Regions from separate parts of the Homo sapiens genome. Here region 2 is linked to region 1. Evidence: fine-mapped QTL for protein levels in blood plasma. A gene starts in region 1. The other region holds a variant in brackets. All regions are shown on one strand. Distances are from middle to middle.

What was found. PIP is the chance, under the fine-mapping model, that this variant and not a neighbour inherited with it causes the effect. The UK Biobank Pharma Proteomics Project read protein levels with antibody pairs (Olink). The fine-mapping took linkage between variants from a reference panel, not from the people measured, so its PIPs are less certain.
Region 2: its variant is fine-mapped to the plasma level of the FCRL5 protein (UK Biobank, PIP above 0.99). The variant lies in the coding sequence of FCRL5. If it changes the protein, the assay may bind it differently, which can mimic a change of level.

What each region holds. Positions count from the first base shown.
Region 1 is chr1:157,550,247-157,555,786 of GRCh38, forward strand. FCRL5 (Fc receptor like 5) reads right to left here and starts at 2,269. Exons shown (of 17, transcript NM_031281.3): 1 at 2,086-2,269. The coding sequence starts at 2,116.
Region 2 is chr1:157,532,413-157,537,412 of GRCh38, forward strand. FCRL5 (Fc receptor like 5) reads right to left here. Exons shown (of 17, transcript NM_031281.3): 8 at 2,202-2,480. Among named protein-coding and RNA genes, the nearest start is that of FCRL5, 18 kb to the right of the region's middle. The variant T/C (reference allele first, on the strand shown) is at 2,264.

The DNA of each region.
Region 1 (5,540 bases):
ATGGAATGGTTTCAAGGAGGAGATTGACAAGGTTAGAATTTCAGACTTTGATGGAGCACTCTGTCAGTGGACAGAATTTAATGGGACAATATGAAGCAGGGAGACTGATTAGAAGGCAGGGCAAGGAAATGGACATGAATTAAGCCTCCCTTGGGCACCAGACTCCAGGCTATACTCTTTTCATGAGATCATTGAATCCAAGGGCTCATTATCATCATGCCTAATTTTTAAACAATCAACTGATGCTCAGATTATTTAGACCTGATGCTCAGCCCAAGAGATGGTAATGTGTAATTTTTGTCAGAGTATTTATCCAAATTATCTTCATTATCTGCTTGTTTATTTTCCCTTCTCTATAATGCAAGCTCTATGAGACCTAGGACTTTCCTTATGTTCACCATATATCCTCCAGGACCTATAACGGTGAATGGCATATAAAAGATATTCCTTTAATGTTCACTAAATATATTTGTGTTGTATAATGAATTAATTAAAGAACTAGGTTAATAATATAGGAATAGAAGGATAGAGATTTGAGAAATGGGTAATGAAGAGAGAGAGGACACAAAACTGGCAGGTTTATCAATTGAGTAGGTATTCTGCATATGGGTTGATTTATTTATTCAACAGATTTTTGGAATGCCAATCATACTCCAGAGCAAGGCAATAGAAATCCAGGAGTGTGTGAGAGACAAATCATCCCTGTCCACATGAGGCTATTGGAGACTTATCCAAACTTAAGTGTTTTACTGAGAACAACAAATTATTCACCATTCACCTGAATATTTTGGCTTCCTTCATCTTTGCATTGTTTTAAATGAAGCTAATATTTTTGTGAGTGGTTTCTATATGGTCTGCATTTACGTAGGTTATTTCATATAACCATGTCAATAATCCTGTGAGGTAAGCACTAGGATTAACTGCATTTTGTAGACCAGGAATCTGGTAGCCAGTAGGTGGCAAGATGAAGTTTGAACCTAGATCCTGTTTGACCCCAGAGCCCATGTTATAAACTTTGCCCTCTCATGCTCAGGACCTGGCCATTACCCACATTGTGTGGGGCCACACTGAGATGTATTCCTACTTCAGGAATTATAGTCCATGCACCTTCCAACTGTGAGGTCCTCTTTTCTTATATCACGCCTGCTCCATTTCTGCTCCTCTAGCTCCTACTCACCTCTAAGTTTCATGAAGTCTTTACTAGCTATTTTGAATACAGTTTATTATCTGCCTACAGCATTCATTGGTAACTTTGCCTGGACAATTATTTAACTGGGAGCTTGTTGCATAGCTGCTTGAAAGTACATTGGCCTTGCTGGGAGCCCTTCTATGTCATGACTTTCCAGAACATAGACGTAGTGTCTCCTATGGACTCTAATTGCTCAGCACCTGTGCATAGATATTACTAAACACATTTGCTGAACAAATAAATAAACATATTTAATTATAATATTTAACCTTTAGTAAAAATCAACCAGTTCGCACATATGAGTTGATAGAGACTTACGTACACCCACAGGGACAAAGAGAAAGTCATATGCTTTAGATTTATCCTTGCTTTGTCCACCTACGCCTCTGCGACCTCCTCCACCCCATGTTCTTAATCAGCCAATTGCTGCAGTGGTTTGCAATTATGTACAAGAGAAAGACCTGTCTTTCCCGTTAGAAACCTTGCCTCTTATGCTGGGGACCAGGATCTGGCCTTGTCATACAAGGAATAAATACATCTCCTCTGCAGAGAGGAGAGTGGGCTCTTCTATGAGTAAGACAATATGAACAAACAAACATGAAACATTCTCTGGACTTTAAGAAGTACTTTTTAAAGAAAAAAATAAATGAAATTTTAATTGTTGTGGTTATTGTGGTTTCCTACTCTGTAAGATTGAAAATTCCTTCCAGCTGTGGCCATTTTCTTCAGCCTCAAGAGAAAGCCCTGAGCTACAGAGTAAAGTTCAAAAATACAGTCTCCTAATGTAGGAGAGAGTCTCTCAGCAGGGGCTGAGCCCCAAGAAAGGACCAGGCCTGCGGTGGAGAGAGAAGCTGTCCCGATCCCACCCAGGGCCCATGGTGAGCCCTTTTACTCACCCAGGACCAGTAATATCACCCACAGCAGCATGAAGACCTGGACCACCAAGGGCTGAGATCAAAAGAGAAGTTTCCTCAATTCCAAAACAGGTTTGGACTTGATCTTACAGTCAGGACACTGCACACCAGCTCCAAGGAGCACATCTGAGAAGCTGTGCTCTCAAAAAGAGCAGAATGCATTAGTGAATTGAAAAAAGGAAGTGGGAGTACCCGTCTTCAGCTGCTAATCACAGTTTCCTACCCGATGATCAAAGAAAAAAAAAAGTTAAGGTTTTAAAAAATCAAATACCCTTGACCCTACATTTTTGCTATTGGGAAATTACCCTGAAGGAAGTATCTGAAGAGAGTACTATAAGAACGTTTATTGTAGCATTCATTATTGCCTAAACACTGGAAACAAAACAAAAAACCATGATATGGGGACTGTTTAAGAATATTCTGATTCATCCGTATGGTGACAAGCAATCATTAAAGAATAAGGTAAATCTGAACATGCCAAGAAGGGAAGACCACCTTGTTTGATGTGAAGAGAATAAAAGTGAGATATAGATTGGTTTTGTAGTATTATCCCATTGGGTAAATATAAAAAATAGGATATATGTGTACATCAACTCTTTTAAGTATACTTTCTTCTTTTCCTGGAAAGTACACACAAAAATATTGATTATGTTTGAGGAGCAATAGGTGGGAAGAACACAATTTATTTTATGTATTTCTGTACCGTTTGATTTTTTAAAAAATTACCAGGTGAATGTATAGCTCTTATGATTTTCTAAAAGTCAAGTTTCCATCCTGGTATACTGGTCAACAGAGGTTCCTAAGACATTAGCTGCCACGAGGAGTGCCAGTTTCTTTCTTTCAAATATTTTCTCACCCTTTCTCTCTGGGCCCATACCTTGGTCTTCCTAAGGGGGCATTTAATTTTATATCTACAAATGCACATCACCTTAGGTATATTATGTCACATCTGACCCACTGCACCCTGAGGCAAGAAAACCATACAGGGGTTACAGGGGTGAATAGAGATTAAGAGGAGAACTTCAAAGGGAACACAGAATCTTTACCTACTTTTGGTGCTAAAACAAATAGTGCTGCTATGAACATTCTTGTATACATTTATTGGGGCATATGCGCACATAATTCTGTTGGGTATATATCTGGGAGTGGAAGTCCTGGCTCATAAGGTATGCATATATTCAGTTTAGGAAGTATTACCAAATTATTTTCCAAAGTGGTTGTGCCAATTCCCACCACACCCACCAACCAATGTATGAGAGTTATCATTGTTCTAAAATTCTTGCTGATATTGGTATTGTCATCTAGTAAAATCTGGCCGTTCTGCTAGAATTATCTCAATGTGGTTTTAATTTGTATGTCTCTGGTGAATTTGAGAATGAGCATTTTTTCATAGTCTAATTGGTGATGTAGATATCCTTTTTATGTGCAATCTCTGTTCAAATATTTCCTCATTTTTCTCTTAACTTTCAGTCTTTCTTTTCCTGTTTTGTAGTTATTTTAAACCCTGAATATAAACCTTTTGTTGGATATATGTATTGCAAATGTCTTCCTTCAATCTGTGGCTTGCTTCTTTGCTCATTGATAGTGCCTTTTGATGAACAACCATTCTAACTTTGACATAGTCCAGTTTATCAGTCTTCTCCTTTGTGGTTAGAGATTTTTGCATCCCTTCTAAGAAAGTTAGTCTACTCCAAGATCATAAAGATACTCTCCCAGGTTATCTTCTAGAAACTTTATTTTTTACCATTTATTTTATATTTATAAGAGCATTGCAATTGATTTTTGTGTACAGTTTGAGTGTTTATATTCACTTTTAACTTAAATACAGATAATTTATCCTGCCCTATTTATTGAAAGTTGATTTTTTCCACAGTACAGTGCAATTTCACCTTTGTTATAAAACAAAAAGCCATGTAGGTCTATTTTTGGAAACTCCTTTCTTGTCCATTAGTCTATTTTGTCTATCCTCATGCCAATACCACACTCTTCTAATTATTGTGGCTTTATAATAACTCTTATTAACTGATAGTTTAAGTCATAAAATGCTGTTCTTCTTCAAAATTGTTATGGCTATTTTTGGCTTTTTGAATTTTTCTATACATTTAAAAATCACCTTGTCAATTCCTGTCCCCTCTCTCCCCAAAAGCCTAGTAGATTTTTAATAACTGGGATTGCATTGGATTTATAAGTTAATTTGTATAAATTAGAAAAGATTTAGTCTCCCAATCCATAAACATACAATATCCCCTCATTTATTTAGGTTAACTTGACATTCTTTCAGTAATTTTCTATAGCTTTGCCTCTGGAAAGTATATCTTTTGGTAGGTTTATCCTTAGGTTATTGATATGTTTTTTATGATATTGTAAGTGACATCATTAGATTTTTTTCTAAATGTATATTGGTATATAGAAATATAATACTTTTTTGTTTTACTGACCATTATTTTTATTTTTTTGAGACAGAGTTTTGCTCTTGTCCCCCAGGCTGGAGTGCACTGGTGCGATCTTGGCTCATTGCAACCTCCACCTCCCAGGTTCAAGCGATTCTCCTGCCTTAGCGTCCCAAGTAGCTGGGATTATAGGTGTCTGCCACCATGCCCAGCTAATTTTTGTATTTTTAGTAGAGATGAGGTTTCACCATGTTGGCCAGGCTGGTCTCAAACTCCTGACCTCAAGTTATCTGCCCGCCTTGGCCTCCAAAAGTGCTAGGATTACAAGCGTGAGCCACCATGCCCGGCCTTACTGACCTTTTAATATCTACTAAAATTGCGGAATTTACTTATTAATTTTAATAGTTTATCTTTAGGTTATTTTAGATTTCATGCAAACACAATCATATAATGATAGTTTTATTCATTATTTTTAATACTTAAACTTCCTTTTCTCTCACTTATTGCACTGACTAGGAACTCAAACATGATACTAAAGAGAAGTGGTAATATCAGGTGTCCTGTCTTAGTCTCACAGAAAAAGCTCTTAATATTTCAATATTAAATATAATATTTTCTGTAATTTTTTTTGGTGAATACTATGTATCAGATTAAATACCTTTCCTTATATTTCTAATTTGCTAAGAAATTTTCCTTTTTTCCTAAATAATGGATGCTGTTTCAGTAAATACCTTTATTGCCTCTATTAATATGATCATATGATTATTTACTTTTATTGTTAATATGATGAATTACATGGATGATTATAAATGTAAAATCAACTGTGCATTCCAACTTGGCCATGATGTGTTATCTTTTTTATATATTCTTGAATTTGACTTATAAATTTGCTGTGCTTTTTAGCATTTGTGTTCATGAGGAAGATGGACCAATTTTCTTTCTTGATGAATTTTAGTAACAAAATTATATTGGTCTCATAAGCAAGCTCCTTCTTTTTCTATTTTCGTGAAGAGTTTGTGTACGACTGATGTTATTTCTTCCTTAAAT
Region 2 (5,000 bases), 18 kb before region 1:
ATTACTAATTTTTTAAAACAGTCCATTCTTTTTGAATTGTGAAATAACTCACAATTTACTCTGAAATAATAATAATCATGAGAAAATGATTGTTCCTTTACTTCCTCTCCTTCCTCTAACTATTTTTCTTTGTTACATTTTTTTTACATTTTCAGTGTTCATAATAGTTACTTTCTATTCTGTGACCATAATTCTCACAGTTGATTAGCCTTTGTTTCTATATCTAAATCAGTGGTTTCCAATCTTGTCTACACAATATTCTCACTTGAGGTTGTGTCAAAAAATACTGATTCTGTGGCCCCATCTGTGAGATTCTGAATTGAATTAGTCTGGAGAGGGGCTTTGACGAGTCAATGTGTGACCTTTTACAAAGGTCTTTGACGAGTCTAATATGCAGCCAGGGTTGAGAGCCAGTCATAATGCGGTTTCCTCATTATGAGTCCTTTATATTCATTTACATCTTGTTGGGCTAGATTTTGTCATTAGGTGTTTTTTCCAGAAGGCTTAGTGCATTCTCAGTTTCCTGAATCCCTGTATTTTTGACAATGTCTTTTTGAATTGATATAAAATTTTCGGTTATTATTCTTCCCTCGCAGGTCCAAGTCTGGACCTCCTCTCTCTTTGGTATTGAGTGCACTGCAAAGTCTAAGACTAACTTGATGTTTTTCTTTCTGAGACGACTGCTTTTTTCCCCATAATCATAGGCACATATATATATTTTTAACCTCAAAGTCAATAACGTCATCAACATATATGTTCTGATCTACATATTCAAGTTTTCTTTACTTCCCAACAATTTCTACTACATTTTTGAGTTTCATTTTACTCTTCGGTTCAATTTTCTGAGGGTCTCCATTTTAATTATCCACATAACTGGATACAGACAAATCCATTGTCTGATTTCCATATTATAATTTTTGCCTTTATTTCTGTATCTTTCTACTTTGCATTCTGTATTGTTTTCTCAAATTGGTTCTTCATTCAATTAATGGTTTTCAAAGATATCCAATCTATTCTTACTGCTTCAAATTGGTATTTCATTTCTAAAATAGCTTTGTTTTTTTTCCTCTTGGGCTTTGCTAGATGATTTTTTTAAATCCCCTCTTATCATCTTGTCATATCATCTGTCCACTAAATTACAAATGTTGACTGAGGACCTACTGTGTGCCAAACACTGAGTAGGCACAGGGATGTTGTGAAGACCAAGATGGATGCAGTTCTGTTCTCATGAAGCTTACATTCTACTGGCATTAAGGGTGACAGTCAAGAAACAGAAAATAAAGAGGCTTAAGATGCTGCTGAATATGAGAAGAAAGTAAAACATGGATAAAAAGATAGTAATGGGATGCAGAATGAGTGAAGTCTAGAAGCTTCCTAGTAGATTTGGCTCTGACTTTGGAGTAGTCTCAGAACATTCACATTTTAAAAATAACCTCTTTACTCAACAAGTTATGCTAGGGGCATGTCTGACACATCAGGCTCAAGATTTTTCTATCATACCATTTGGCTTCTCTGAAAAGAAAGTAAACTTTCCCCCAGTTTCTATAAACAAAGATTCAAGTAAAAACAGAAGCAACTTAGCTCCTAAAAAGACACCAAATCGTACACATACAATTTGCACACGTTTCTTGAATGTATGTCATACTTCAACAATAGTTTTTTTAAAATAATACAATAAAATGATACTGATTTTAGCAGGTTAGAAAACAAGGGATCATAAAAACTCCAGAAGTTTGAGGAGTTGGTTCCTAGGGAGCCATTTCCCCCTTTGTTCACCAGCAGCTTTCTCCAAATCTACCATAAGATTGGAAATCCTTTGGAGAATTTAAGGTCTTGACCAATATTTATCTATAAGACTGTGCTTGTAGCTAAGTTAATATGTAAATGTCAGTAGAGAAGTAGGACACGCTCCGTGCATCAAGAAAAATTGGCGTACTGTTGGAACATACAAGGAATGAGGAGAAAATACAATAAATAAATTCATTTGGTAAAAGCTGGGGAATCTACTGAGCTGTTTTAGGGGTCTGGCTGAGCCAGGACTTATGAGTACGGAAAACCCCAGCTAGTTAGTTGAGGAGGAAGCCAAGAAGGGGATTAAGTTGATTAGGGGAGGAAACTGGACAGTGCAAACAGATTTTTAAAGGAATGGGTGAGAGAGAACTCAGCCAGGGGTGGGTGACTGGCAAGAACCCAGCACTTACCAGTGACAAAAAGGCTCACCACTTCACTGCGCTGGGGACCAAAGCCATTGTCAGCTGTGCAG[T/C]AGTAATTCCCTGAATGTCCTTCAGTCAGAGAGAAGCTGAAGGACACTCTTCCCACAGAGGGTGTTGAGCTGCTCCACAGGGGCATGTCCTCATGATAAAACTGGTATAGGATTTGTGGGGAACCTCTCTGGACTTCACAGTGAAGTGTCACAGTGGCTCCTTCAAAAGTCAGGGCCTCAGCAGAGCTGAGGGTGAGGACAGGATGAGACACAGGGACTGAGGAAGAGAAAGATTGAATCAAGAGTTGCTTTTGCCTCTTACTGTAGATTTCAACACTTGGCCAGTGCAGATGCCCAGTCTCCAGTACAGGATCTCTAGACTTCACCTACCTGGAGGGCAGCCAAGCAACTTCTCAGGTTTCTGTGACCAGCCCTCCATGCTGGTCTTTCCCTATCTGTTCATCTTTCCAGGAGACCAATACTCTCTTCTTCTCTCATGGCTCCTCTTGTAGTGTGACCTGCCTCCTTTTTGCAGAGGAGATGATGCTTTCAAGGAAAAAATTCCTTGTCTTGCCACCACCAGACTCACTTGCACCGCTCCTCACTTCTTCCTGCAACCATGCAGGCTTCCCTGCAACCATGGAAGAGCCATGCCTGGCCTGCCCAAGGGGGATTTTCCTATGTCTCTTGACCTTGTGCACATCTGCCTCTGTCCTAGACATAAAGTCCTTACCTCTTTTGGCTTCTTCCAAACTACATTTTGGTGTGTTTAACTATCTCCATATAAGAAAAACTATCAGACAATTCAAAAACAACTTTATTTGTATTTGAAGTTCCTCACAGTTGGTTCCTCCACTTTTCTGTGGACAGACTTCTGGAAGAAGTGACCTACATTTATCATCTCTACTTCTTTATCTCATATCTCATATGCATATTCTGTCCATTACAACTCAGTTTTTACCCCCAATAATCTACTAAAGCTGATTTTTCATGTTTATGAATGTAGTAATGATGATAATGATAAATATAAAAAAGATATTTGTTATAATGAGATTATAGTGCCTTTAAGTTCTGGTGTGTGTATATTTGTCAGATGTAATTTGTGAATATCTATATGTATAAAGACACTAAGTTAATCATCAAAACAATTCAATGAGGTAGGTATTATTGTTGTCCCTATGTCACAGATGAAAATACTGAGGCCCCGAGTGGTTGAGTCACACAGCTAGTAAGTGAAGAGGCAGCAGTCAAACCCAGGTATTCTGGTTCTAGTCTGTGTTCTTCTGCCAAAGGGTACTTTGTGGCTAAATTCACTGGATGTGACTCAGTTTTTTTTTTTTTTTTGAGATGGAGTCTCACTGTGTCACCCAGCCTGGAATTCAGTGGCATGATCTCAGCTCACTGCAAACTTTGCCTCCCGAATTCAAGCAATTCTCCTGCATCAGCCTCCTGAGTAGCTGGCGTTACAGGCGACCGCCACCACACCTGGCTAATTTTTGTATTTTTAGTAGACACAGGATTTCACTATGTTGGCCAGGCTGGTCTCAAACTCCTGACCTCAGGTGATCCACCTGCCTCAGCCTCCCAAAGTGCTGGAATTACAGGCATGAGCCACCTCTCCTGGCCATGACTCAGTTTTTATCTTTCATCATCTCTTAGCTTTGCCTTATCCAAACTGGCTCACTATCATCTGCTTAGAACATGTTCTACCCTTGGTGACAGTGGGGCACACTCTCACAGTGAGTGCCTTTTCCCTTGGCCAGAGTCCTTCCTTCTCATGTCCCATTTCCTCTACTGGGACTAGACTGGGGGTTCTGTCCAACTGGACACTCCCTTGTTGGGCTCCCTCCTTCACGCCTGGCTGCTCCTCAAACAGGTTGCTCTATGACCTGATCCCCACTGTACTGCTGGAGTGGTTTTCCCCAACATTTAAAACCTTCATGGAGCCCAGATTGCCCTGCAGAATATGGCCCAAGCCCTTACTCTGCTTCTAAGTAGGTTCTAATGATGTTGTCTTCCCCAACCTTATCTTGTGGTTCTCCACTGTTCTGTCTATGGTTCAGTCATCAAGAACTGACCACTCTCCAGTTCCTTGAAAGTGTCCTCCCTCCCTCACCACAATCCTCTTCTCCATCAGGTCTCATCTTGTTGCGGGAAGTCAGGGACCCCGAATGGAGGGACCAACTGAAGCCATGGCAGAAGAACATAAATTTTGAAGATTTCATGGACATTTATTAGTTCCCCAAATTAATACTTTTATAATTTCTTATGCCTGTCTTTACTGCAATCTCTGAACATAAATTGTGAAGATTTCATGGACACTTATCACTTCCACAGTCAATACCCTTGTGATTTCCTATGCCTGTCTTTACTTTAATCTCTTAATCCCATCATTTTTGTAAACTGAGGATGAATGTCACCTCAGGACCCTGTGATAATTGTGTTAACTGCACAAATTGTTTAAACAATATGAAATCTGGGCACCTTGAAAAAAGAACAGGATAACAGCAATGTTCAGGGAACAAGGGAGATAACCTTAAACTCTGGCTGCCTGTGAGCTGGGTGGAACAGAGTCATATTTTTCTTCTTTCTAAATCAAATAGGAGAGATATCACTGAATTCTTTTTCTCAGCAAGGAACATCCCTGAGAAAGAGAATATGTCCCTAAGGGGAGGCCTCTGAAATGGCCGCTTTGGGGATGGCTGTCTTTTATGATCGTTGCTGAGGGATGAAATAAGCTCTGGTCTCCTGTAGTGCTCCCAGGCTTATTAGGACGAGGAAATTCCTGCCTAATAAA